3 separate regions of the Homo sapiens genome follow, and regions 1 and 3 are each linked to region 2. The links come from fine-mapping of genetic effects on gene expression. A gene starts in region 2. Each other region holds a variant in brackets. All regions are shown on one strand. Distances are between the middles of the regions.

Region 1 (8,179 bases), 110 kb before region 2:
GCTGGCAGGTGCAGGAGATATTTAATTCACCGCTTCTTGTTAAAGGAGGAAATGGGGGCCCCAGAGGAGTATGACTTAGCCAAGGCCCCAGAATGTTTATGGAAAAACCCAAGCTACCTTCCCAGGCTTGCGGAATCTGTCACTTGGTATTTCTCCTCCCTAAAACAAGACTCGCAAACTCCGACATCCTCAGGAGGCGTAATGTTATATAAACTATCAAATAAACCACAGTGTTGTACAATAGGTAGTGGGGACCAGGCCAAACTGGGGGTGCATGCTCAGAAGAAAAGTTTTCTAAGTCCAAGTCAAACAGCAACAATGATAACCATGGCGTGCCACCAAACCGGCCAACAGAACACATCTGTGAGCTGAAGCTGGCCCTTCTAGTCACGAATCTGAGCCCTCAGTTTGGCCACACTCCCTCCCATTCCTCAGTGTATTTCTATCCTTATCCTGCATTTTAGCATATTTTTTCAAGTCATACCTAATCAGAAAGCCTCTCCTACATGCCTCTATTTTCTCTGCATTGTTTTTTCTCAAGTTTGAGCCACATTTTAAAATGTAACCAAACTTAGAAAAACCAAATAGGATGGGTACATATTTATTTTCATAACATAGTACTGTCTTAATATAATAACAATGCAAAATTAATTTTCTATTTATCTAAAATTCACTTTTTTTTTTTTTTGTATAGACAGGGTCTTGCTCTGTCCCCCAGGCTGGAGGGTAGTGGTGCGATCATGGCTTAGGGGAGCCTCAAACTCCTGGTGTCATGCAATCTTCCCACCTCAGCCTCCCGAGCAGCTGGGACTAGAGGTGCAGATTAGCATGCCCAGCTAATTTTAATTTTTTATAGAGATGAATTCTCACTATGTTGCCTAGGTTAATCTGCAACTTCTGGCCTCAAGTGATCCTCCTGCCTCGGCCTCCCAAGCACCAGGATTACAGGCATGAGTCACTGAGCCCAGCCAAATTTACCCATTTAAATAGTAAAAAACCTAAACAAATTATTCTGTATGTAAATATTTTGAAAATATATGAATACTTCCTTGTCTTCTTAAAAGACTATGCTGAACATAATTCAGTCTTTTTTTGATATTAATGGTCAATATTTTGGATACAAATTGACCTACAGGCCAGGCATGGTGGCTCACGCCTGTAATCCCAGCACTTTGGGAGACCAAGGCAGGTGTATCACTTGAGGTTAGAAGTTTGAGACTAGCCTGGCCAACATGGTGAAACCCCGTCTCTACTGGGAAAAAAAAAAAAAATTAGCTGGGCATGCTAGCACACATCTGTAATCCCAGCTACTCAGGAAGCTGAGGGATGAGAACTGCTTGAACCCGGAAGGCAGAGGTCACAGTGAGCTGAGATCATGCCACTGCACTCCAGCCTGGGCAGCTGAGTCAGACTCTGAAAAAACAAACAAACAACAACAACAACAAAAAACAAATTGACCTATAGTACAGGAGATATTTTTAGGGGCTATCTGCTTCTGTACTTCCATCTGTTATTTTTTTAAGGGACATCGTCTCCCCTCCAGGTTTCCAGAAGTGCAGAATATGGTTCCAAAGAGAAGGGCAGACCCCACCTTCCATCCTGTACCTTTCTGACCTTGGTGAAACTCTGTATTTTTGTTGCTTTTTAACTGGTTGGTCATCTTAACTTTGTACAATGTAGAAAAGCTTTTAATTTTGATTTTTTAAAATATCCCTTTTTTACAGTCCTCAAATCTAAGCCAAAAAGTCCAAAGTAACTTAAAAGATGCTCCTTCCATTGGAAGTGTGCTCTAATCTTCAGGTCTCTGGTTCAGAATCACTGGGAGTTCTTTTGCTAAAAATGTGCTACCTCCTATCTACAAATTCTATTAGCTTAAAAGTTCAGACCTAAAAAATGCGTCTTAAACAAATATCCTAAGCGATTCTTATGCATATCCAACTTTGAGAACTGCAGCTTTATCTTTTCCTTATAACTATGGTTCTCAAACATTGCGACAAATTATAGTCACATAAGGACGTTAAAAAAGGGAACAATGGCTGAGTGCAAACCCAGAATCAGATCCTCTGAGTGGTAAGACCTGGGTATTTGTGTTTTTATTTAATTTTTACTCTTTATGTTGAGCTAATTATAGATTTCCCATGCCATTTGTAAGGAAAAATAAAGAGAGAGCCCATGTACCCTTCACCCAGTTTCCCCCAATGGTAATACCTTGTATAACTACAGCATAACATCACAATTGGGAAACTACATTGATACAATCCTACTATGCTGTTTTTGTTTTTGTTTTTCCCAAGATGGAGTCTTGCTCTGTCATCCAGGCTGGAGTGCCGTGGCATGATCTCGGCTCACTGCAACCTCCGACTCCCGGGATCAAGCAATTCTCCTGCCTCAGCCTCCCAAGTAGCTGGGATTACAGGTGCACACCACCACGCCCAGCTAATTTTTGTATTTTTAGTAGAGACGGGGTTTCACCGTGTTGGCCAGACTGGTCTTGAACTCTTGACCTCGTGATCCACCCACCTCGGCCTCCCAAAGTGCTGGGATTACAGACATAAGCCACTGCGTCTGGCCTTGTTTTTTTTTTGTTTGTTTTGTTTTGTTTTGTTTTTTGTTTTTTAACTAGGTATGCTTTCTTTAGTAGAGATGGGATTTTGCCATGTTGGCCAGGCTGGTCTTGAACTCCTGACCTTGGTGATCCACCCGCCTCGTCCTCCCAAAATGCTAGGATTATAGGTGTTAGCCACTGTGCCCGGCCATTTTTCTCTATTTCTTCTTTTGGTGATGCTTAGTTCTACTGGAGCAGCTCCTCTCCTCTTTAATGTGCTAGCTTTTTCTATTTTGAAAAAATGTAAAACCTACAGAAAACGTATCATGCTAGTATAATGAACACCCAAATACCCTTCACGTATATTCACCAGTTGTTAACATTTTGCCACATTTCTCTCCTTCTCTCCCCTCCCACTTTTTCCTTCTCAATATGTACACACATATTCTTGATCCTGACCCATTTATGCACAGCCCCTCATGCCTGCACACTTCAGCATGTGTCTCCAGAGAACAAGGACATTCTCTTACATGGCCACAATGTAACTATCAAACTCAGAAAATTTAACATCAATACAATATTATCTAATATAATATAGTTCATCTCAAATTTCATTCATTTTCCAAAATTCTCCTTTTATGTAGCAATTCCTCTCCCTCACACCCCTAGGATCTCATCACACTGCCTTTATTGTGTTTTTTTTTAGGATTTTTTTTTTTTTATACTTTAAGTTTTAGGGTACATGTGCACATTGTGCAGGTTAGTTACATATGTATACATGTGCCATGCTGGTGCGCTGCACCCACTAGCTCGTCATCTAGCATTAGGTATATCTCCCAATGCTATCCCTCCCCCCTCCCCTCCCCACCACAGTCCCCAGAGTGTGATATTCCCCTTCCTGTGTCCATGTGATCTCATTGTTCAATTCCCACCTATGAGTGAGAATATGCGGTGTTTGGTTTTTTGTTCTTGCGATAGTTTACTGAGAATGATGATTTCCAATTTCATCCATGTCCCTACAAAGGACATGAACTCATCATTTTTTATGGCTGCATAGTATTCCATGGTGTATATGTGCCACATTTTCTTAATCCAGTCTATCGTTGTTGGACATTTGGGTTGGTTCCAAGTCTTTGCTATTGTGTTATTTCTTTACTCTCCTTTAATCTGAAACAGTGCCCTTTGTCTCTCATGCTACTGACTTTTTTTTCTTCCTTTTTTTTTTTTTTTTTTTTTCTGAGACAGAGTCTCACTCTGTTGCCTAGGCTGGAGTGTAGTGCCATGATCACAGCTCACTGCAGCCTCAACCTCCTGGGCTCAAGTGATCCTCCCACCTCAGCCTCCCAAGTAGCTGGGACTACAGGCATGCACCACCACACCCAACTAATTTTTTGTAGAGATGGAGTCTCCCTATGTTGCCCAGGCTGGTCTGGAACTCCTGGCTTCAAGCATTCCTACCACCTCGGCCTCCCAAAGGGCTGGGATGATAGGTATCAGCTACCGCACCTGGCTGCCACTGACATTTCTGAAGACTCCAGGCCAGTTGTTTTTAGAGTATCCCCCTCAATTTGGGTTTGTCTGGCTGTTTCCTCACTGGATTT[C/T]GCTTTTGAAAAACATTTTTCATCCACATTTTCAGTCATGGATTCACTGAGGAGATATTTGGCTAAGGAGAGTTCTCTCTATCATTGTTTAAAACATTATTAAGCATAACTGATGGATGGTCACCTCTGAATACCTTGCTCCTGGGTATAACATCAATAATATTCACAACAGACTGTGGCACATTCTGAGCAAAACCAGATGAGTGCAATATTCCCCGCCTGTGACTGTGAATTGTAAGGAACAAGGAGTCATGAGCCTGGGCTTCCAGCAGGGGCTTCCCTGAGGCCTGGGTGAGCAACATTATTTCTTTATTCCTCAGTTTCCTCAAACCATAACATGGGAATGAAAATCCCTAGAACTTAACTCACAGGGTTAACGTCGTGATGGATGTTACATGCTCAACATGGTGCTTGGCACTCGGTAAGTGCTCATTTAACGTGAGCTCTTATTATTTAAATGTAACATCATTAAGTCAAATCTCTTGTGAATTGTTTTACATCTTCTGGCCAGGCGCAGCGGCTCATGCCTGTAATCCCAGCACTTTGGGAGGTTGAGGCAGGAGGATCACTTGAGCCAGGAGTTTGAGACCAGCCTGGGCAATAAAGCAAGACCTTGTCTCTCAAAAATAAATAAATAAATAAATAAATAAATAATTGGCTGGACATGGTGGTGCGTACCTGTAACCCCAGCTACTTGGGAGGCTGAGGTGGGAGGATCACTAGAGCCCAGGAGTTCAAAGCCGCAGTGAGCCATGATTGCACCACTGTATTCTAGCCTGGGAGACAGAGCAAGACTCCATCTCTTTAAACAAACAAACAAACAAAATATATATATATATATATATATATATATATATATATATATATATATATATATCCATTCTAGGGGGTAGCAGCCCAGCGGTTTTTGTTTGTATATTTGTTTTGAGACAGCTTCTCTCTTTGTCATCCAGGCAGACATGCAGTAGCACAATCATAGCTCACTGCAACCTTGAATTCCTGGACTCAAGTGATCCTCCGGCCTCAGTTTCTCAAGTACCTGGGACTGCAGGCACATGCCACCACACCCTGCACATTTTAAAAATTTTTAGTTGAGACAAGGTCTTGCTGTTTCCCAGGCTGGTCTCTAACTCCTGAGCTCAAGCCATCCTCCTGCCTCAGCCTCCCAAAGTGCTGGGATTACAGGTATAAGCCACCGTGCCCGCCCTGTGGTTTTCCTAGACTCTCTCACGGAGTCCATCTTAAGGCAGGCACAGCTGCTTGGCTACGGAAAAGATCCCCAGCCCTTAGGGGTTAGGATGCTGAAAACTGATCTTACCATCACATCCTGAATAGTTAAGAGGATCCTTTCTTTGTCCACGCTGCTTGAAGGGTCAGAATGTCCACATGCATTCAGAAGGGAGAAGTTAAAACCACAGGGCTTGGTACTGGTGGGAGATTTGGTATCCTAGGGACAAGCACAGAAAACTGGGCATGGTAAAAACAACTTCCTGTCCCTGAAGACATGCTGGGGCCTCGCTCTTCTGTTGGTCTCCCTGCCTCCCATCTTCTCCTCATTAAATCACCCTCTGCTCTTGCTCCTAAAGTGGATCTGATCACTCTCATCCCTGCTACATCAACACCATTGCTGGCACACAGCCAGTCAATGGACCAGGATCCAAACTCAGGCCACCAACTCCTAAAACAGTGCTCTGAACCATGGAGCTGTATGGCAGTTGAGTGAGTACCAGTGTAGAAAGATGGCCAAGGTATGTTGTTGAGTTTTTTTAAAAAATGGGAGGCCAGGCACAGTGGCTCACATCTGTAATCCTAGCACTTTGGGAGGCTGAGGCGGGCAGATCACCTGAGGTCAGGAGTTCGAGACTAGCCTGGCCAACATGGTGAAATCCCATCTCTACTAAAAATTCAAAAATTAGCCAGGTGTGTTGGCACGTGCCTGTAGTCCCAGCTACATGACAGGCTGAGGCAGAAGAACTGCTTGAACCCAGGAGGCAGAGGTTGCAGTGAGCCAAGATCTCACCACTGCACTCCAGCCAGGGTGACAGAGCAAGACTCCGTCTTTAAATAAATAAATAAGTAAATGGGGCTGGCCATGGTGGCTTAGCCTTGTAATATCTGGAAATTTGGGAGGCTGAGGCAGGAGGATTGCTTGAGCCCAGGAGTTCAAGACCAGCCAGGGCAACATAGTGGGATATGAGACCCTATCTCTACCAAAAAACTCCCCAACAATTAGCTGGATGTGGTGGTGAGTTCCTGTTGTCTCAGCTCTTCGGGAGGCTGACGCAGGATGACTGCTTTATCCTGGGAGGTAGAGGTTGCAATGAGCTGTGATTGTGCTACTGCACTCCAGCCTGGGTGGCAGAGCGAGACTTTGTCTCAAAAAGAAAAAAAAAAAAAAGTGGGAAAATCAAATAGCATGGATGGTATAATCCCATTTATGTGAAAATAACCATTAAAAATGTTAAAAAGGCACCCACTCAGAGGTCATTTATATGGTAACCCCAAACAGCAGGAACTGCCCTAAGTTCCTGCTGTGGTAAACCCCACGCATTGAAACTGCCCTAAGTCTCATCACTGGAACGAATGAAGGAAGACTGAAGGGATGTGCTGCAGAGTCTGGCTGGGGGCAGGGTTGGGGTGGGCTGGCCAAGGATGGTGGTCTTTAGTCGTTTATAAATGTCAGCAATAACCACTTTAAGACACTGAACTGTTACTGTGAGAAAAAACCAGACTCACCCCATGCCACCATCCACCCAATGGAAAGAACACTCAGAAGGCATTCCAGAAGACTTCAGGGTGGCCCTGTCTTCCTGTCACGTATCACGCTCTCAGGGACTTCAGAGGTAACTAAACTTGGGAGATACCACTCACTGGGAACGAGACAGGTCCAGGATATTCTGGATCAATGATCTCTTCTTGGATATAATGAAATATGCCATTTTTAGTCCGGATGGTTATCTACCCATCTACTCACAATAATTATCTCTGGGGCAGTGGGATTATGAAAGGACTTTTGTTTTCTTTGTATCATTTGATTTTTTGTTTTTTTTCTTTTAGAGACAGGGTCTTGCTCTGTCACCCAGGCTGGAGTGCAGTGGCATAATCATCGCTTATGGTAGCCTTGTCATTTGAATTTTTTATATCAATTATGCATTATCAGGAAAATAAGTATCATAATTTTTTAAAACGTAAACTTTGTTTCATTCCTGATACATCAACAGAGACAATATAATTTTTTTTTTTTTTTTTGAGATGGAGTTTCACTCTGCCCCTGCAGTACAGTGGCTCCATCTCGGCTCCTGTAACTTCTGCCTCCTAGGTTCAAGTGATTCTCCTGCCTCGGCCTCCTGAGTAGCTGGGATTACAGGTGTGTGCCACTACACCTGGCTAATTTTTATATTTTTAGTAGAGATGGGGTTTCACCATGTTGGTCAGGCTGGTCTCGAACCCCTGATCTTAAGCGACCCTTCACCTCCCAAAGTGCTGGTATTACAGATGTGAGCCACAGCGCCCAGCAAGAGACAATACCACTTAAACGGTGAACATATCATCCATTGCAGCATACAACCATGTGCCCAGGAAAGCCAACATAACTAAGACTTGCCACTTTGGCAGAACTCTCTGGAAAGCGGTGTCTTCCTTTCACCAGAGATGTAAAACAGGTATGATGGTTTCCCCTCAAACTTAAGGAGAATCCCGTATCTTTATTTCTGCCCTCAAGCCCCATGCAATCTGACCCATGGCTGCTTCTCTGACCTCTCCTCTACTTAAGTATCACCTCATCAAGGGGAAGCCCCTGCACCCTCCATATAAAATAGCAGCCCCTGGCCATTTTTCTCTATCCCCTTCCTATTTTATTTTTCTTATCAGCCCTGTTGTCTCCTGACACATTATATACTTGTTTCTCTTCTGCCTTATCCTCAGTGTCCGGAATGGTACCCAGGATGGTGGTACACTGGAGCACACACACCTAAGTAAGGGGACAGCTGTTCCTCAGCTCTGGTCACTGTTAGTGTATAAGAATGTGGAACCC
Region 2 (8,146 bases):
TGCAGATCCTGGGAGAAGGAGGGGTCCACAAAGACAAAAGTATTTTAATCATAATTTGAAGAGTATTTCACTGTGTTGAATTTTTTTTCTTTTGAGACAGTCTCACTCTGTTGCCCAGGCTGCAATACAGTGGCATGATCTTGGCTCACTGCAACCTCTGCCTCCTGGGTTCAAGCGATTCTCTTGCCTCAGCCTCCCCCAAGTAGCTGGGACCACAGTTATGTGCCACCATGCCCAGCTAATTTTTGTATTTTTAGTAGAGACAGGGTTTCACCATGTTGGCCAGGCTAGTCTCAAACTCCCGACCTCAGGTGATCGCCCACCTTGGCCTCTCAAAGTGCTGGGATTACAGGCGTGAGCCACCCCATCTGGCTGTGTTGACATTTGTACTTATGACACAAAGCAATGGTGGGTAAAACTGCTTGCAGTCTGAATCAAGGCAATGTTACCACAATGTACTAGAAACCTTCCCTCCTTCCTTCCTCCCTCCCTTCTTCCATCCCTCCCTTCTTTCCTCCTTCCTTTCTCTCTCCTCTCCCTCCCTTCTTTCCTTCCTTCCTTTCTCTCTCCTCTCTCCCCCCACCCCACCCCCTGCTCTCTCTCTCTCTAGACAAGGTCTTTTTGCCCAGGCTGGAGTGCAGTGGCACAGTCATGGCTCACTGTAGCCTCAACCTCCTAAGCTCAACTGATCCTGAGTGGCTGGGACTACAGGCACGAGCCACTATACCTGTCTAATTTTTTACTTTTTACAGAGATGGGGTCTCACTAAGTTGCCCAGGCTGGTCTTGACCTCCTGGGCTCAAGTGATCCCCACACCTCAGTCTCCTTAGCAGCTAGAACCACAGGTGCATGCTACCATGCCTGACTATTATTTATTTATTTATTTATTTTATTTATTTATTTAGTAGAGATGGAGTCTCACTATGTTGACGAAGCTGGTCTTGAATTTCTGGGCTGAAGAGATCCTCTTGTCTTGGCCTCCCAAAGCGGTGGGACTATAGGCGTGAGCCACTGAACCCAACCATCAGGACATTCTTAAATAAAAATAATTGTTTGTTTGTTTTAAATGTGAGTACATGGCAGTAAATAAAATAATAGACAAATTTTGGTTATTCAGTCTTGGGAATTTGGCAGAAATTTTCTCAAATATGAAATAAGTGAGTCTGTCACTTCAAGGAAACAGCTGACAATATTTGCTGCCAATGTTAAAATTCAAGCTGTCAAGTGAAAACAAGTTGAAAACTTGTTTCCATTACCTTGAGTTTGATAGTTTCCTAATACTTAAACTCCTTTTTAAAATGAAATAGGTGGTGATATTAACAAATGTGATTTTTTAAATACCGTATAATGGCATCTGAAAGGTCAACGTTTAGATTTGCATAACTCACTGAACCAACATTTTCTAAACGACCAATGGCTGATGTTATAAAACCATATATGGGTAAAGCAGCCAATGAAAGGGCAAGATAGACCAATGGATTTTAATGTAACACAGTATAAAAGTTCACCTATAAGGCTTCAGATGACACACTGTGACTAACATTTAAGAAACTGCCACTTGTGGCCTGGCATGGTTCTTCATGCCTGTAATCCCAGCACTTTGGGAGGCCAAGGCGGGCGGATCACCTGAGGTTGGCAGTTTGAGACCAGCCTGACCAACATAGAGAAACCCCATCTCTACTAAAAGTACAAAATTAGCTGAGCGTGGTGGCACATGCCTGTAATCCCAGCTACTTGGGAGGCTGAGGCAGGAGAATCGCTTGAACCCGGGAGGCGGAGGTTGCGGTGAGCCGAGATCAGGCCATTGCACTCCAGCCTGGGCAACGACGGCAAAACTCCCGTCTCAAAAAAAAAAAAAAAAAAAAAAAACTGCCACTTGCAGGCCAGGCATGGTGGCTCACGTCTGTAATCCCAGCACTTTGGGAAATGGAGGCAGGCTGATCACCTGAGGTCAGGAGTTTGCGACCAGCTGGCCAACATGGGGAAACCCCATGTCTACTAAAAATAAAAAAAATTAGCTGGGCATGGTGGTTCACACCTGTGATCCCAGCTACTCGGGAGGTTGAGGCAGGAGAATCGCTTGAACCCAGCAGGCAGAGGTTGCAGTGAGCTGAGATCGTGCCACTGCACTCCAGCCTGGGCGACAGTGAGACTTTTTCTCAAAAAAAAAAAAAAAAAGAAAAAAGAAACTGGCATTTGCTAAATTTTGTATAGTATGAAAGGAGAGTGTCTACAGTTATCTGAAAAGGCAATTAAAATGTTTCTCTCTGCTCCAATTATATATTTGTATGAGGCCAAATTTTCTTCATACACACCAGCCAAAACAGCATAACAAAAAACAGTTTGAATCCTGAAGCAGAAATGAGAGTAGTTTTTTCTATTTCTATTGAATAAACTTGAAAAAACATAAAATAATGCTACTCTTCCTATTAATTTTTTGGAGGCAAATGTAATTGTTTTCCATTAAAAATATTATTTATGTTCAGAAGTAATGGGTTTATTGTTGTTGGAGTTTTTTTGAGACAGGGTCTAGCTATGTTGCCCAGGCTGGTCTTGAACTCCTGAGCTCAAGCAATCCACCCACTTCAGCCTCCCAAACTGCTGGGATCACAGGTGTGAGGCACTGCACATGGCCAATTATTATTATGATTATTATGAGCCACTGCACCTGGCCAATTATTATTATTATTATTGGGTTTTTTTGAGACAGAGTCTCGCCCTGTTGCCCAGGCTGGAGTGCAGTGGCAAGATCTCGGCTTCAAATGATTCTCCTGCCTCAGCCTTCCAAGTAGCTGGGATTACAGACATGTGTCACCACGTCCGGCTAAGTTTTAGTAGAGACAAGGTTTCACCATGTTGGCCAGGCTGGTCTCGAACTCCTGACCTCAAGTGATCCACCTGCCTTGGCCTTCCAGAGTGCTAGGATTACAGGCACGAGTCCATGCCCGGCCCAATTTTTATTATTTTTAAAGGAACTAATTAATGGACATCTTAAGATTTTCCCAGTTTAAATCTTCGATATGGTAAATATCATAAATATAAATAAACAAAGCTCTTTGAGGTAAGAGCATACAGGGGTCCCAAGGCTTAAAAGGTTTGAGGACTGATGTTCTATAGCAACATTACATTGACCTTTCCAGAAGGCAAAATGGTAAAGCACATTTTATAGTACCTCTAAAGTACAAAGGGAAAAGATATATTTTAAGCATATGACAGAATGTTCAATTAAAAACATTTTCTCCACACTACATTCAGTGAATATAAAAAGAATGTGGATTCCCCAGGAACAAATTCCCGAGAAGTGAGGGACAGTGCTGTAATTAGAAAAATGATCTGGACTCTAGCCCAGACCCTACCAGTCTCTCTAGACTTTAGTCTTCCCATCTGCAAAGTGAGATATCAGAATAGCCTATTTTCCATTTGCTTCCAATTGTCAATACCATGACTCTAATCAGGGATCCCTAAATGGGGGCCCACAAGCTGTCTCTGGCCTTCAGAGTGACTGGCCAACCCTGTTTTTGAGAAGTACCCCAAGAGGACAATCAGCTGGTGCTTGGTGAGCAGCTTTCCTTTCAGGTGAGGAATTGATTTTCAGTTACAGCCTCAATCCGGCTCACTAGACTCTCCTCTGCAGACATCTGCATTTACAACCTCTGGAATAAAGGGACCCTCAAAACCGGTCCAAATCTCAAGCTCCATAATTCAGCTCCAGAGACAGGGTGTCTGGGTTTCTCACTCACTCTGCTACATGCTGGTTGTTTGACTTTGGGCAAGTTCCTTAACACCTCTGAGCCTCAGTTTCATCATCTGTAAAATGGAACAACGCTGAACTCAAAAGGCTGGTATGAAGCTTAGCGAGGTGTTGCCCAAGAGTACTTACAGAGTTCTTGGTACTGGAAAGCACTTTGTTAAAGGGAGCTATTATTATTAACGCCAAGGCACAGAAAGGGAGTATTTCCTAAACTCCCTTCACCCCCCACACCAATTCCCTTTCCCAGCACCTGACGATTGCACTCCCACGATCAAGCTTGTTTTCATATCAACTCCCAAATCCGACAGTTCCACATCCCAACATTCACAAGACCCTCCTCAGACCTCTACTTCTCCTTCCCCACCCTACATCCCTTCACTGAGCTCCCGGCCAGTACCGGTTTCCTTCACGACCACAGCCGAGCAGAATGGTCACAGCACTGACCACTCCCCCAGGCTCTCCTCCGCGTTCCAGACCACTAAGCCTCCCTATCCCTCATTTCGGAGACCCCCTTGGGTCAGGAAGTGGTGGTCCAGGGGTTCATGGCCTAGGATTCTGCCCAAAGCGCGGTCGGGAGGGATGGGAGAATAACAGCCCGACCTCCCGGAGGGGCCCACAGACACTCACCGTCCATCCCTAGAGGCGGCGGTTCCGGGAGCTCGAACCGGAAGCGGCCTCTACACTGTTTGCAGTTCCCCTGGTTACTGCGGGGCCCCGGACCAATGACGGTGGAGCTCCACTTACTGAGCCCGCCCCCGGGGAGTGACGTCATGCCGGCGCGCTGGAACTCCTCCTCCGAACCCTGGGTCTGACCCACCTCCCCGGGCCCCGGATCGTTGTGCGCAGGCGCGATGGACCAAGGCCCTTGGCGGTGCGTTGCGCATGCGCCCCGGGCGCCGCCGACTGAAGTAGCAATGGACGCGCTGGAGTCGTTGTTGGACGAAGTCGCTCTGGAGGGGCTCGATGGCCTGTGTCTGCCAGCGCTGTGGAGCCGGCTGGAGACGCGAGTGCCGCCCTTCCCGCTGCCTTTGGAACCCTGCACGCAGGAGTTTCTCTGGCGGGCCCTCGCCACGCACCCGGGCATCAGCTTCTATGAGGAGCCTCGGGAGCGACCCGACCTACAGCTCCAGGACCGGTCAGCGGGCGGCCTGGCCTGGCGGGCGGGCGGGCGGGCGCAGGGCCCGGGGGCTGATGGAGCTGGGGGCAGGGCGGGGGAATGGAGTGGGGCTGTGCAAGTACCGGAGGCCTGTTGATTGAGTTGGGGCACGGCGGTAAGGCTAATCTGGGGTCCCTCAGGCCTGGCAGGGCCCTGGAGTCCGATGGAGTTGGCGGGGGGAGGGGGAGAATCTAGTGATGTCCCGTTTTGTCCCTGTGTGTGTTTTGGGGTAATGGCGAACAGGATTGGGGATATTCTTCAGGCTTAAAAGAATGTTTCCTTTACATTGGAGGATAGGATTAGAGCAGGAAAGACACTTTAGAGCCAGACTGGAGACTCCTGAGATCAACAGACCCTCATGGTATATTCATTCGGTGCAGATAGCCTAGGGCAACTCGAGATCTGCGTATCAGGACAATTAGCGATAATGCTAAAAGCTGACATTTATCAGGGACTTCATGGGTGAGGTGCTGTTCTTTTTTTTCTTTTTTGAGATAGAGTCTCTCTCTGTGGCCCAGGCTGGAGTGCAGTGGCGCGATCTTGGCTCACTGCAACCTCCGTCCGCCTCCCAGGTTCAAGCGATTCTCGTGCCTCAGCCTCCTGAGTAACTGGGATTACAGGCATGTTCCACCACGCCCGGCTAATTTTTGCATTTTTAGTAGGTATGGGGTGTCATCATGTTGGCCAGGCTGGTCGCGAACTCCTGACCTCAGACAATCCGCACCTCTCGGCCTCCCAAAGTGCTGTGATTACAGGCGTGAGCCACGGCGCCCGGCCACATTGCTGTTCTAAGAATCTATTCTAGAAGCTTTAGGAGCTTAAACTCACTTGATCCTCACTTGATTAAACTCCGTTAAACAGGAGATTAAATTCACTTGATCCTCACCTATGAGGTAGGTGCTGTTATCGTCCTCATTTTACAGAGGAAGACACTGAGTCACAGAGAGGGATTATGTAACCTAAGGTTCTGGGGGCAATAAGTGACTAAGAATTGATTTGAACCCAGGCTATTTTCAGCGTCTGTGCTCTTAAGCCATATTGTGAGGGTCAGGGGAGGTTCCAAGAGGTAATAATGTCCAAGACAGGCCGGGTGCAGCAGCTCATGCCTGCAATCCCAGTACTTTGGGAGGCTGAGGTGGATGGGTCACAAGGTCGGCAGTTCAAGACCCGCCTGACCAACGTGGTGAAACCCTATCTCTACTAAAAATACAAAAATTAGCCTGGCGTGGTGGCGCATGCCTGTATCCCAGCTACTCAGGAGGCTGAGGCAGGAGAATCACTTGAACCTGGGAGACAGAGGTTTCAGTGAGCTGAGATTCAGCCATTGCACTCCAGCCTGGGTGACAGAGTGAGACTCTGTCTCAAAAATAAAATAAAATAATGTTCGAGACAAAACTTAAAGGTTGGATTTAGGCAGCCAGTTGGCAAAGAGGACTGTTGGACAGAGAACAGCAAATGTGAAGTAAGTGGCTGAAGTGTGGAATTGGAGGTAGGGAATGAGGAATAGCTAGGACTGTGCTAAGATCCTTAATACAACATGTTATTTAATTTTTACAGAAACCTTAGGAGATGGGTAATATTCTCCCCATTTTCCTGAAGAGAAAATCGAGGCCCTGAGGGGTCAAGTGGCATGCTAAAAGTCAACTAGCAAGGGAAGAACCCAGACTTTGAGGAAGGTCTGAGTTCAGATTCCAGCCAAATTGGACTGGAATCAAGTCTTTTAACCTACTTAAAGAGTTTATCAGCCTGTAATCCCAGCACTTTGAGAGGCAGAGGTGGGCGGATAACTTGAGGTCAGGAGTTCAAGACCAGTCCAGCCAACATGGTGAAACCCCATGTCTACTAAAAATACAAAAATTAGCTGGGCGTGGTGGTAGACGCCTGAAATCCCAGCTAGGTGGAGGCTGCAGTGAGCCGAGATTGTGCCACTGCACTCCAGCCTGGGTGACAGAGGGAGAATCCATCTCAAAAAAAAAGCTTATCCTTTATCAAAAGGACAGTGAGAAGTCACTGAAGAGAGGGTCAGACTAGGGGCAAAGAGTGAAGTTGAGAGATTTTTAGTAATCTAGTCATGGTCTGGCTTACCATGGTGGGCGTGGGGATGAAGAGCACAGGCAGTCAAGACATAGTAGGCTGCTGTTTGGGCACCTGAGCGAACCCTGATTCTCATCTCTGAGGCTGGGAACACGGAAGAACAGCGTGGGGGTTGAGTCTGGGGGAGGTGGGGACTTTGCTGAAGAGACATGTGACACATTTAGCTTCAGGTTCTTTTGAGTTGTCCAAGTGAAGAGTCTTAATTAGTAAACATCTGGCTTCGTGGGAGTGAAAGCAGGCCAGAGGGAGGGACTGAGCTAGACATCTGTGAGTCATTCCTAGCAGCTGGTAATTAAAGCAGCTGGCTAAGATCAGCCCTAAGAGAGAGTGTAGTGTGGTTGGAGGTCTTGAGATATAGCTCTGCAGTGCACCTACATTTCAAGGCTGGATGGAGGGTGAGGGACTTTCAAAAGAAGACTGAGGCGGTGTGGCTGGAGAGGTAGAGGACAGTCAGGTCAGAGTGGTGTTCTGGAAGTTTGGGAGGAGACAGGATCATTTAAGAACGGAGGGTTGGGCTGGGTGTGGTGAATCATGCCTGTAATCCCAGCACTTTGGGAGGCCGAGGCAGGTGGATCATTTGGCCAACATCGTGAAACCCTCTCTCTACTAAAAATACAAAAATTAGCTGGGTGTGGTGGCAGGTGCCTGTGATCCCAGCTACTAGGGAGGCTGAGGCAGGAGAATCGCTTGAACCCAGAAGGTAGAGGTTGCAGTGAGCCGAGATTGCGCCACTGCACTCCAGCCTGGGTGACAAGATCAAAACTCAAGTCTTAAAAAAAAGGAATGGAGGGTTAAATGGTGCAGATAACACAGAGGGGGCAAGGAAGGAAAGGGCTGAAACATGTACATAGGATTTAGCCGCAATTAGACTAGTGTAGGATATGAGTGAGATTTCAAAATAAAACTCGACAAGCAGCCAGGCAAGGTGGCTCACACCTGTAATCCTAGCACTTTGCAAGGCTGAAGTGGGCAGATTACTTGAGCCCGGTAGTTCAAGACCAATCTGGGCAACATAGTGAGGGGAAAAAAAATTATATATATATATATGTATGTATTTTTTTTTTTTTTCAAAAAAAAAAAAACTTGACAAGCTTGGCTAACTGCATGAAAGAAGCACAAATGAAAAATGTCTCCATGGTGTTGTA
Region 3 (8,179 bases), 220 kb before region 2:
ACACAAGATTCGATCAGGCTCCTGGCCGTGTGTCCCAGCCATCCATCCTCCTTAGGGCTGGTGGGGAGGCCATGGGGCCGGCTGGGGCCCTACCTGATGGTGGTGTGTTTCTCCTGGTGGCGGATGTCCCTGTCCTCGGTGAAGAGGATGGTGTGGTAGGGCACGGTGGGCTCACATGTGGGCAGGATGCCCCCCACCAGGTGGCTCACCATGGCCAGGATCCCATTGTACACAAGCAGGTCGTCCACCAGGAGCTGCAGGGACACGGGGCAGGACTCATGGGTCCCCCTCGTCCCTCCCACGTTGACCTTGGGCAGAACGCGTTACTGCTCTGAGCCAAGGCTTTCTCCTCGGGAAGACGGGGCTGTCAGGAACAAGCGCCTACTGTGTGCTGTGTCTGCCTTGTGATTTCAGATCTTCACAACCATTGGGAAAGGCAGGAGCTATCAGCATGCATTGCAGATGAGGAAATTGAGGCCCGAGGGGCTTTAATACCATTAGCACAAGTGGCAGAGCTGGAGGCAAACTTGGGTCTCTGGTATCCAGGGTCCCTGTTTTCCCCATCCCAGGGTCACCGCCCCAAACCAGTGGGATTCTAGAGGAAAAGACGAAAGAAAACCCACTTTCTATTTGCTCAGGGTGACACTGAAATCACTGCCAGCAGGTTCTGAATTCATGGTTGGGTGGGAAATTCGCCTGCATCTGACGACCAGGCATTTGTGTTGAGGGTTGCAACAGAGAGAAGTAAATCAAACTGCGACAAATGATAATTGCCGGCGGCCTAATTACCAACGAGCATAATTATCTCAAAAAACTCAGCTAATAAGTACTTACGCCAAACTCCTTCACCCCTCGATGGGGTGTTTTCGCATAATTCCACAGTTTGATCATTGACACGGTGGTAGGCAGATCGAAAATCACATAAACCCGGTTCACCTGTCAGAGAGCGGCACTAATTAAAACAGGCATGTTTGGAAACAGAGGCGCTTGGCTGGGCTGGGGGTGCCAGGCGTGGGCTGGGGTGAGCGGTGGTGCCCAAGGCAGCGCCTGCCACGTGGGCCAGCCTGGAGTTCCGCCCCCTTTCATCTCCTCGAAGCCCATCTTGAGTCAGGTCACGTGTGGCTGCATTTGCAACAAACCGCTGAGCTGGCTTTTGGAGGGCCTGTGTTCTTGGGCCTGTCGGAGCCCTCATTTAAATGCCAGTGGAGGATTGGGAACATCCTCGGCCCTCCCCCACGTCCCCTCAGGTCAGGCCCAGAAATAGTCTAGAGCCCCATGAGCTAAAGGGACAGTCCCCAACTCGGGTTGAGCACCAGCCATGGTGATCAGCATCTGACCCTGTCTGTCCTTTCCCCAAACCATCACTGAGAAGCAACGCCAAGGTGCTGCTGGACAATGTCCAGGGCGTGTCTGTGAACCTCCGCTGGGGGAGTAAAAAGGGGGCTGTCTAGATCGGGGCAGAATCCAGTGGGAAAAGTGGGACGGAGCAGCCTCAAACAGCCCTCCCTCTCCCCACCCCCAACCAAAGCTCTCAGATATTAGGGGAGGCCCTCCCTTGCAAGACAGAATCAAGAAATAAGCATTCCACACTGGCCACAGACTGCAGGCTCAGTCCTGCCCCAGGCCCTGGTCCCCAGCCTGTGACCATCCTCAGAATATGCCAAGAGGGAGTGCGGCTGCTCGGGTAGGGCCAGCCTCCTGGCTGGACCATGGAAACAATAAAGGTCAGGGTGAGGGTCTCCAAACTCAGTTGCCTGTGAGGCTCAAGCAGATACAGATGTTGGAGTCCAGCCGCGAGAGCAACAGCTGAAGTCGCCGCACCCCAAAAGGCCTTCCAGTGCTAGACAATGGAAAATACCCGCTGGCCGTCAGTGGGTGGCCTGAGTCTCAGGGAGGACAGAGCTCTGTTGCCCCCTCTGCAATGGGGCAGGGGAAGCTGAGGACGCTCAATAGGGGGGGTCTAATTTTAGGGTGGCCTTTGGAAAACTTCCGTCATAGAATTGCTGATGCTGTACCTTCCTGTGTTTTCAGAGAAAAAGGTGCCCCCGATCCCCCACTCAGTCCCATGGCATGGACAAGGGACACATCCCTAGTCATATGGCTGCCAAGAACCCGCTGTGCATCTCTACCAGGCACCTGGCCCTGGGCTGAGAGGCTGCAGGGGGGCTGACCACCCCGTCCATGCCCTCTCCCCTTCCTCTCCACCACAACCAACCACGTCTTCTCACCATGAGGCCTCAGAGCTAAAAGCTAAGCAGGACCCAGTGCAAGATTTGAGATCTGGGAAACTGAGTCAGTTGGTCGGAAGAGCTGACCAGGCCAATTTAGGGCCAGAAGGAGGGCAGGGCGGCCGTACTGGGGTCATCTACCTGGTGATGTAGGAAGGGGCAGAAACCGTGAGTGTGCGGAGAGCTGGGTGGGGAGGAAGAGGGCACAGTGGCTGCAAAGCCAGGCAGAGCAGAGAACCAGAGAGGGCTGCCTGCAGGGACCCAGGACGCCCAAGCCCTCAGGCAGTTGTGCTGGGGTTCCTGGCTTCAGATTCCCATGGGACCCCTTTCGCCCCAGGTGTCCACTTATAAAAGAGAAAGAACTGCTGGCCTGGAAGAGCTGACCCCATCAGGCAAGTTAGCAAAGACCTAAACCTTTCTGACAGCTCCCAAGCATCTTGGCTTGAGATTAACTTGACCTGGAAGAAAGACGTGTCACTGAGACCAGGGAAAGAAAGTCCCCCTGCCCGCCTGAGGGCCAGGAGCTGCGGTGGCCGCTGCCGGGAACCCACCAGGCCCGGCAGGATGGGAGCCAGCCACATGTGCCGGCCATCACTGGTGTCGTTCACTTGGTCGATGAGCTTGTCTGGGGTGCGGACGTCCCCGCCCACACCCTCCAGGGAGTTCACGCTGTCGGGGAAGGCCGCAATATCTGAGGAGACGTCTAAGTTGCCATAACCCAAATCTGTGTGCTCGGGGCTGCCAGCCACCCTCAGGCTGATGGCGTGGCTCGGGGGACTCTGGGGCTGGCAGGGCTGATGCTTTGGGCAGCCGCAGCAGTGACAGCTGAATTGGACGTGTCCTGGGGAAACGGGGAGTGCCGGGCCCAAGGGGAGCAGGTGTGTCTGGAGAGGTGGTCAGTTTCAAGTAGAGAGAGAAGGAAACCACACAGAAGGCCAGCTGAAAAAGAGACGTTGCAGGGAACTGCCAGAGCTGGGGACGTAAAATGTTGCTGCTGCTTGAGAGGGTGGAGGGCAAGCTCTGCGGAGGTTTTCTTTTGGAAGGGAATGGGGCGGTGGCTGGATTCTACCCTGGCATGTGAGTATCATGCCGAGCCTCTCTTCCTGGTCAGTGTGGAAGGACCTCGGAGCAGCTGGACCCAGCTAATGTGATCTGCAGAACCCAGCTTCTAGCTCTGCCTCTGCCATTATGACCTGTGAGGGCGTGGGCAAGTCACAGGTCAACCCTGGGCCTGTTTTCCCATCTGTAAAATGGGTATAAAAACCTCCAGCTCCCAGGATGGATGTGAGGATCTCAGAGTGCACCAGATGTGAGCACTTTGGTAAAATCAATGAAACTTTATAGCTTCGAGGAGTCGCTAATAATGATCTAAAACATCAAGAATCATTCATCCCAGCTGAGGAGGGTGGTGGCACCAGGGGAAGGCAGAAAAGGATCCAACTGGAAGCCAGGGACCCCAAACAGATGCAAGGCAGGCTTTGGGGTTCGACTTGCCCTGGTATTTCCCTAACTGTGGTGGGCCAGGGATCACAGATTCAAGATCCGAGGGGGCCAGGCAGGTTACATGAAAGAGGCAGGATAGCCTACTGCTTGGTCAAGAGCTGGTGTCTGGACACTCACTGGCTGTGTGACATTAGGCAAGTTACTCAATCTCTCTGTGTCTCAGGCTCCTCATCTGTAAAATGGGGATAACAGCAGCAATCACCTCACAAGATTGTTGTGAGGGCAGATGAGGTAGCACAGAGTGAGCCCTGAGAAAATATTAGCAGTGAGTTTCGGGGCCTGGTAGATAACAATGGGAGGAGTGGGGGGCTAAGGTAGACCAGAAGGATATGCTTGGGGAGAAATGGCAACAGATAACCAGGTCCAGCCATTGTCACTATGCATAATCAAGGGCCTGTGTTGCCAATTTCTCAGGGGAAACCAGAGATCAGGGTTTTCATGTGAAACCTCGTGATTTCTAAAAATATTAGCAACTCATTTTAAAATGCACTGGGCTAACAGTCTGCAAATTCTGGTGTGGGCATACTATGCACAAAGGGTTCCATACTTAAGAAATTCAGGACACACTGAGTTGAACACAGTGCAACAGGCTTCTCCCTGCAGACCTTGTCAGAGCCTTTGGAACTCCAAAGTATCTGTGGTTCTCCGAGAAGGGGGCGCTATAGTTGGCAGCCTCTCTCAATTCACTGGACCACAGGACTCTGGTTTGTGGAATTCCTGCTCCTGATGTCTTAGCAGGCAGGGCTGGGAGCTGCTCTCTGCTGCCCGTCCCCAAGGGTCAGCATCTGACTATAAGCAAAGCCCCCTGGGCTCTGGTTCCTAGAGGGCCATTTCCCTCTGCACACAAGGCTTCTGCCCCGTTCCCGACCCTCCCATGCTCCCTTCAGTCTGGGTGGAGCCCACTCCTGTCCTACAAAGGATACTGTTTTCCGACAAGGGGATTTTTTCTCCTCGCTCGTCATACAGCTCCAGGCCGGTGAGGCCGATGTAGTAGGGGTCGCCCCAGCTGGTGAGAAGCTGAAACTGGAAAATGACTGGGACACTTTATTAAGGAAAAGAAGGCTTAATTTTTTTTTT[TC/C]AGAATATAGTAAAACAATGGCAAAGATAAGAGGAATTGTTTTGGGTTTATGTTGATGAATGAGAGAAAAACATTTTTCTCTTATTGCAACTAGAGCCTATCAAAATATAGGTAGCATCACATTTTCTTAAATTGCATGTGTGTGCATGTGTGTGTGTGTGTGCATGTGAGTGTTCATGTGTGTGTATGCATGCATGTGTGCACGTGTGCGTGTGCCCGTGTGTGTGTGTATTAGGAATTCAAAGCCTTCCTCTAGGCCCCAGGAGACAGGACGGGAGGAGAGGGTGCTCTCCAGGGAGCAGGCAGGATGGGGAAACATCTGTGTCACAAACTGATTGTATGGTATTGAACAAAATGCTCCAGTTTCCCTGGTTGTGAAATGACAAGAACAGAGTACCTGCAACCTCCTCCATCCCTTTCAAGTAAACAGGAGGCTAAGAAGGGGACACATAAACCTCACAGCGCCAGGGGCCATGGGCCGGGGCAAGGAGACCACCATTGCTGCTGAAGTCCCACGTGCAGAGCTGGGCATCAAGCCTTTCCTCAGCCCTGTGCTCTGCTCACTCCCCGCACTCCCAGGAGCAGGCCGGGTGGCTCTCAGATGATGGCATAGCCAGAGACAGTGCTTCCAGAACTGGCTGGCTAGAGAGCGGGCCTTAGAGCCAGGCTGCCTGGGTTCACCTCCCCTGGGCCCTACCCCTTCCCACCTGTGCAGCCTTGGGCAAATTACTGAGCCTCTCTGTGCCTCAGTTTTCCTAGCTGTGAAATGGGAATGATAGTAGTACCAGAGTGCTGGGCTCTGCTGCCTGGGCTAAAGTACAGTGGTGCAATCAGAGCTCACTGCAGCCTCGAACTCCTGGGCTCAAAAGGTCCTCCCACCTCAGCCTCCAAGTAGCTTGGACTATGGGCATGTACCACCAGCTAATTTATTTATTTTTTTTTAAGATATGGAGTCTCATTATGTTGCCCAGGCTAGTCTCAAACTCCTGGCCCCAAGCAATCCAACCTCCTTGGTCTCCTAAAGCGCTGGGATTACAGGTGTGAGCTATTGTGCCTGGATTGCCAAGTTATTTCTATCTTCACCTCCTCCCTGGCTGGTTCCAGGACACCCCCCTTCCCCAGTCCAGCCACTGGGGTCAGTGCCAGCTTCTCTAGCCCCTCCCAGCTGGAGTCCTGGGTGCTGCCCCCTCCAGCCTCAGCAGGAACTAGCCTGGCTGCCCCAGTTCCAGCAGCTCCTAGTGGCCCTGAGGACCCAGGAGGCCTCCTATCCTCTGCCTTGGTTTCCTTGCATGGAGTTCCAGCTGCCTCATCTGTGGCCGCCTGAAACCCTGGCTGGGCAGTTGCGGCCCAGGCGCTGCCTCGGGGCCCAGAATGTGCTGGTGGGGCGGGAGGAGAAGGATACAGCCACAGGGCATCAGCGGTGCCTCGTAGTCCATGCTTGCACACTCCAGGCTTCTCATGTCCAGCCTGAAAAAGCACAAAACAGCACCATGAAGAAGCTCACGACGGCCCAGAATCACCAGCCAGTTACCCCCTAGGTAACAGCCTTTGAAGAAACATGGCAGTTTAGCGTTCCCTAGGATGCAGCAGGGAAAAGAGAGATGAGGCCCCTGCTCGTGTGGAGTTCCCGCTCTAGATGACAGTCATTGCCAATGCTGGCAGGATGCTGTGCCAGGGAGGCACGGGGCTCAGGGCTTTCCTGAAATGGACTCTTTTATTCCTCAACACAACCCTAGGAGGTGGGTATTTTTAGATGCTTGGGATGTGGATGAGGAAACTGGAACACGGAGAAGTGAGGTCACTTGCTCAAGGCCATGCAGCTGGTAGTGGCAGAACCGGGATGGGACGTGAGGTTGCCTGGTACCACTGCCCCCTTTCTTAACCAACCCCCTCTATGTCTTTAAACACAAGGAGGGTCCACGCTGTGCCGACAGCCAGGACGGGGTGACAGGGCAGAGGGACTGGGTGGGGCAGGCTGCCTCAGGGAGTGCTCTGGGAAGGCCTCCAGGAGGAGGCAGCCTTGGGAAGTGCCAGAGCTGAACCTTCCACGCAGAGGAGCAGCAGAGCAAAGGCCCAAGGTGGGAAGTCACTGGGCTGCTGGTGTTTGCCCCAGAAAGCGGCCAGAGGGCTGGAGTCTGGGGCAGGATGGGGAGAGGGAAGTGAGAGGAGGCTGGAAGGCAGGCACAGCCCTGATGGCTTTGGCTTCATGATCTTCAGCACCTGGCTCCACCAGCCAGAGCCTCAGTTCCCACATCTGTAAAACGGGCATCATACTGGCTAGGTCAAAGGGTGGCTGGAAGGATTTCCCAAAGGACACATCAAAGTGTTCACACAGCTGGCCCTCGGGAAGGATCCTCTCCTCCACGGCCCTCCTGACGGGGCCCCTCTCCCTGGTCCGCTGTCAGTGCCCTCCAGCCCTAGCCTGGTTCTCTTCCATTTCAAGGGCAATGTTACAATTAAATGACTTCCTAGTGACCAGCCCAGCCAGCCAACCCCGCTACAGTGCAGGGAAACTCATTTTGTTTCAAGAGCTTGGCCTCTGGCGTTTGGACATCAGGGGGTTTCAATGAGTAAACTTAACGTGGCATTTACAAATCGTTATGAACTTAATGCAGCTGAGACTGGGGCCGAGAAATCCCAGTGAATCCATGAAATATTAAGCTCTATTTTTCTCCTTGAATCTTTCTAAATCAGGAACACAGAAACGGGAGAAGGAAGGCCCTTCCCCAAACTGGCCGGCAGGCATTTCTGGAATGGAGGCAGGCTGTAGCCTCTTTTCTCAGCAGGAAACGCAATGAAGCATTTAAAATCTTCAGCACTCCAGACTGTGAAAAACCCAAATGTCCCCAGACAAGGTAAGTCCATTCCACAGGCTTCCGGTGAGGCTTGGCTGAGCTTTAGAAAATGACTAAGTTGAAAAGCAATGCGTTTGATCATCGTTTCAAAACCCTTTCGGAATGTACATCAGAGCAACTTGCAAAGCAAGCGGGCCCAGGGGCCGGGAGGGGCTGTGTGTGGCGCCCACTTTCTCCTCACCTCCTGGCCGGCTGGGGCAGCAGCTGAGCCCGTAGGTAGTCCACGAAGAGGATTTCTTGAGCAAAATCAAAGTGGCAGTTGCCTGGCCCCTTCCGGATGAGAAAGCCCTCTGGCGGGGAGACGCACAGGCCATCCAGGGAGACGTGGACAATCTTGGCCTGGCAAACAAAAGAAATAACATGACTGAAGGGAGGCAGGCCATGTGGGGACAGAAGCGGTGCTGACGTGACCGGAGCTGCTGGCAGCTGTGCTCACCATGGGGAGCCTTTCGCAGAGCCACCTGACCGAGGTCCATTTCCCATATCAGGTGCTGTGTGGGCGCTGGGCAGGTAGC

What was found. PIP is the estimated chance that this variant, and not a neighbour inherited with it, causes the effect.
Region 1: its variant is fine-mapped to the expression of KATNIP in whole blood (TOPMed, PIP above 0.99).
Region 3: its variant is fine-mapped to the expression of KATNIP in whole blood (TOPMed, PIP above 0.99).

The regions. Positions count from the first base shown.
Region 1 is chr16:27,652,022-27,660,200 of GRCh38, reverse strand. The region is part of intron 6 of KATNIP (katanin interacting protein); the gene reads right to left. Among named protein-coding and RNA genes, the nearest start is that of KATNIP, 110 kb to the right of the region's middle. The variant C/T (reference allele first, on the strand shown) is at 4,147.
Region 2 is chr16:27,546,410-27,554,555 of GRCh38, reverse strand. It overlaps KATNIP (katanin interacting protein), which reads right to left and starts at 4,412. Exons shown (of 28, transcript NM_015202.5): 1 at 4,379-4,412. The coding sequence starts at 4,385. GTF3C1 (general transcription factor IIIC subunit 1) reads left to right here and starts at 4,643. Exons shown (of 37, transcript NM_001520.4): 1 at 4,643-4,886. The coding sequence starts at 4,666. RefSeq lists enhancers at 4,547-4,656, 4,667-4,746.
Region 3 is chr16:27,769,685-27,777,863 of GRCh38, reverse strand. KATNIP (katanin interacting protein) reads right to left here. Exons shown (of 28, transcript NM_015202.5): 21 at 7,846-8,003; 22 at 6,212-6,276; 23 at 4,655-4,765; 24 at 2,780-2,919; 25 at 835-936; 26 at 94-254. Among named protein-coding and RNA genes, the nearest start is that of KATNIP, 220 kb to the right of the region's middle. RefSeq lists enhancers at 2,889-3,389, 5,626-6,391, 7,228-8,179. The variant TC/C (reference allele first, on the strand shown) is at 4,809.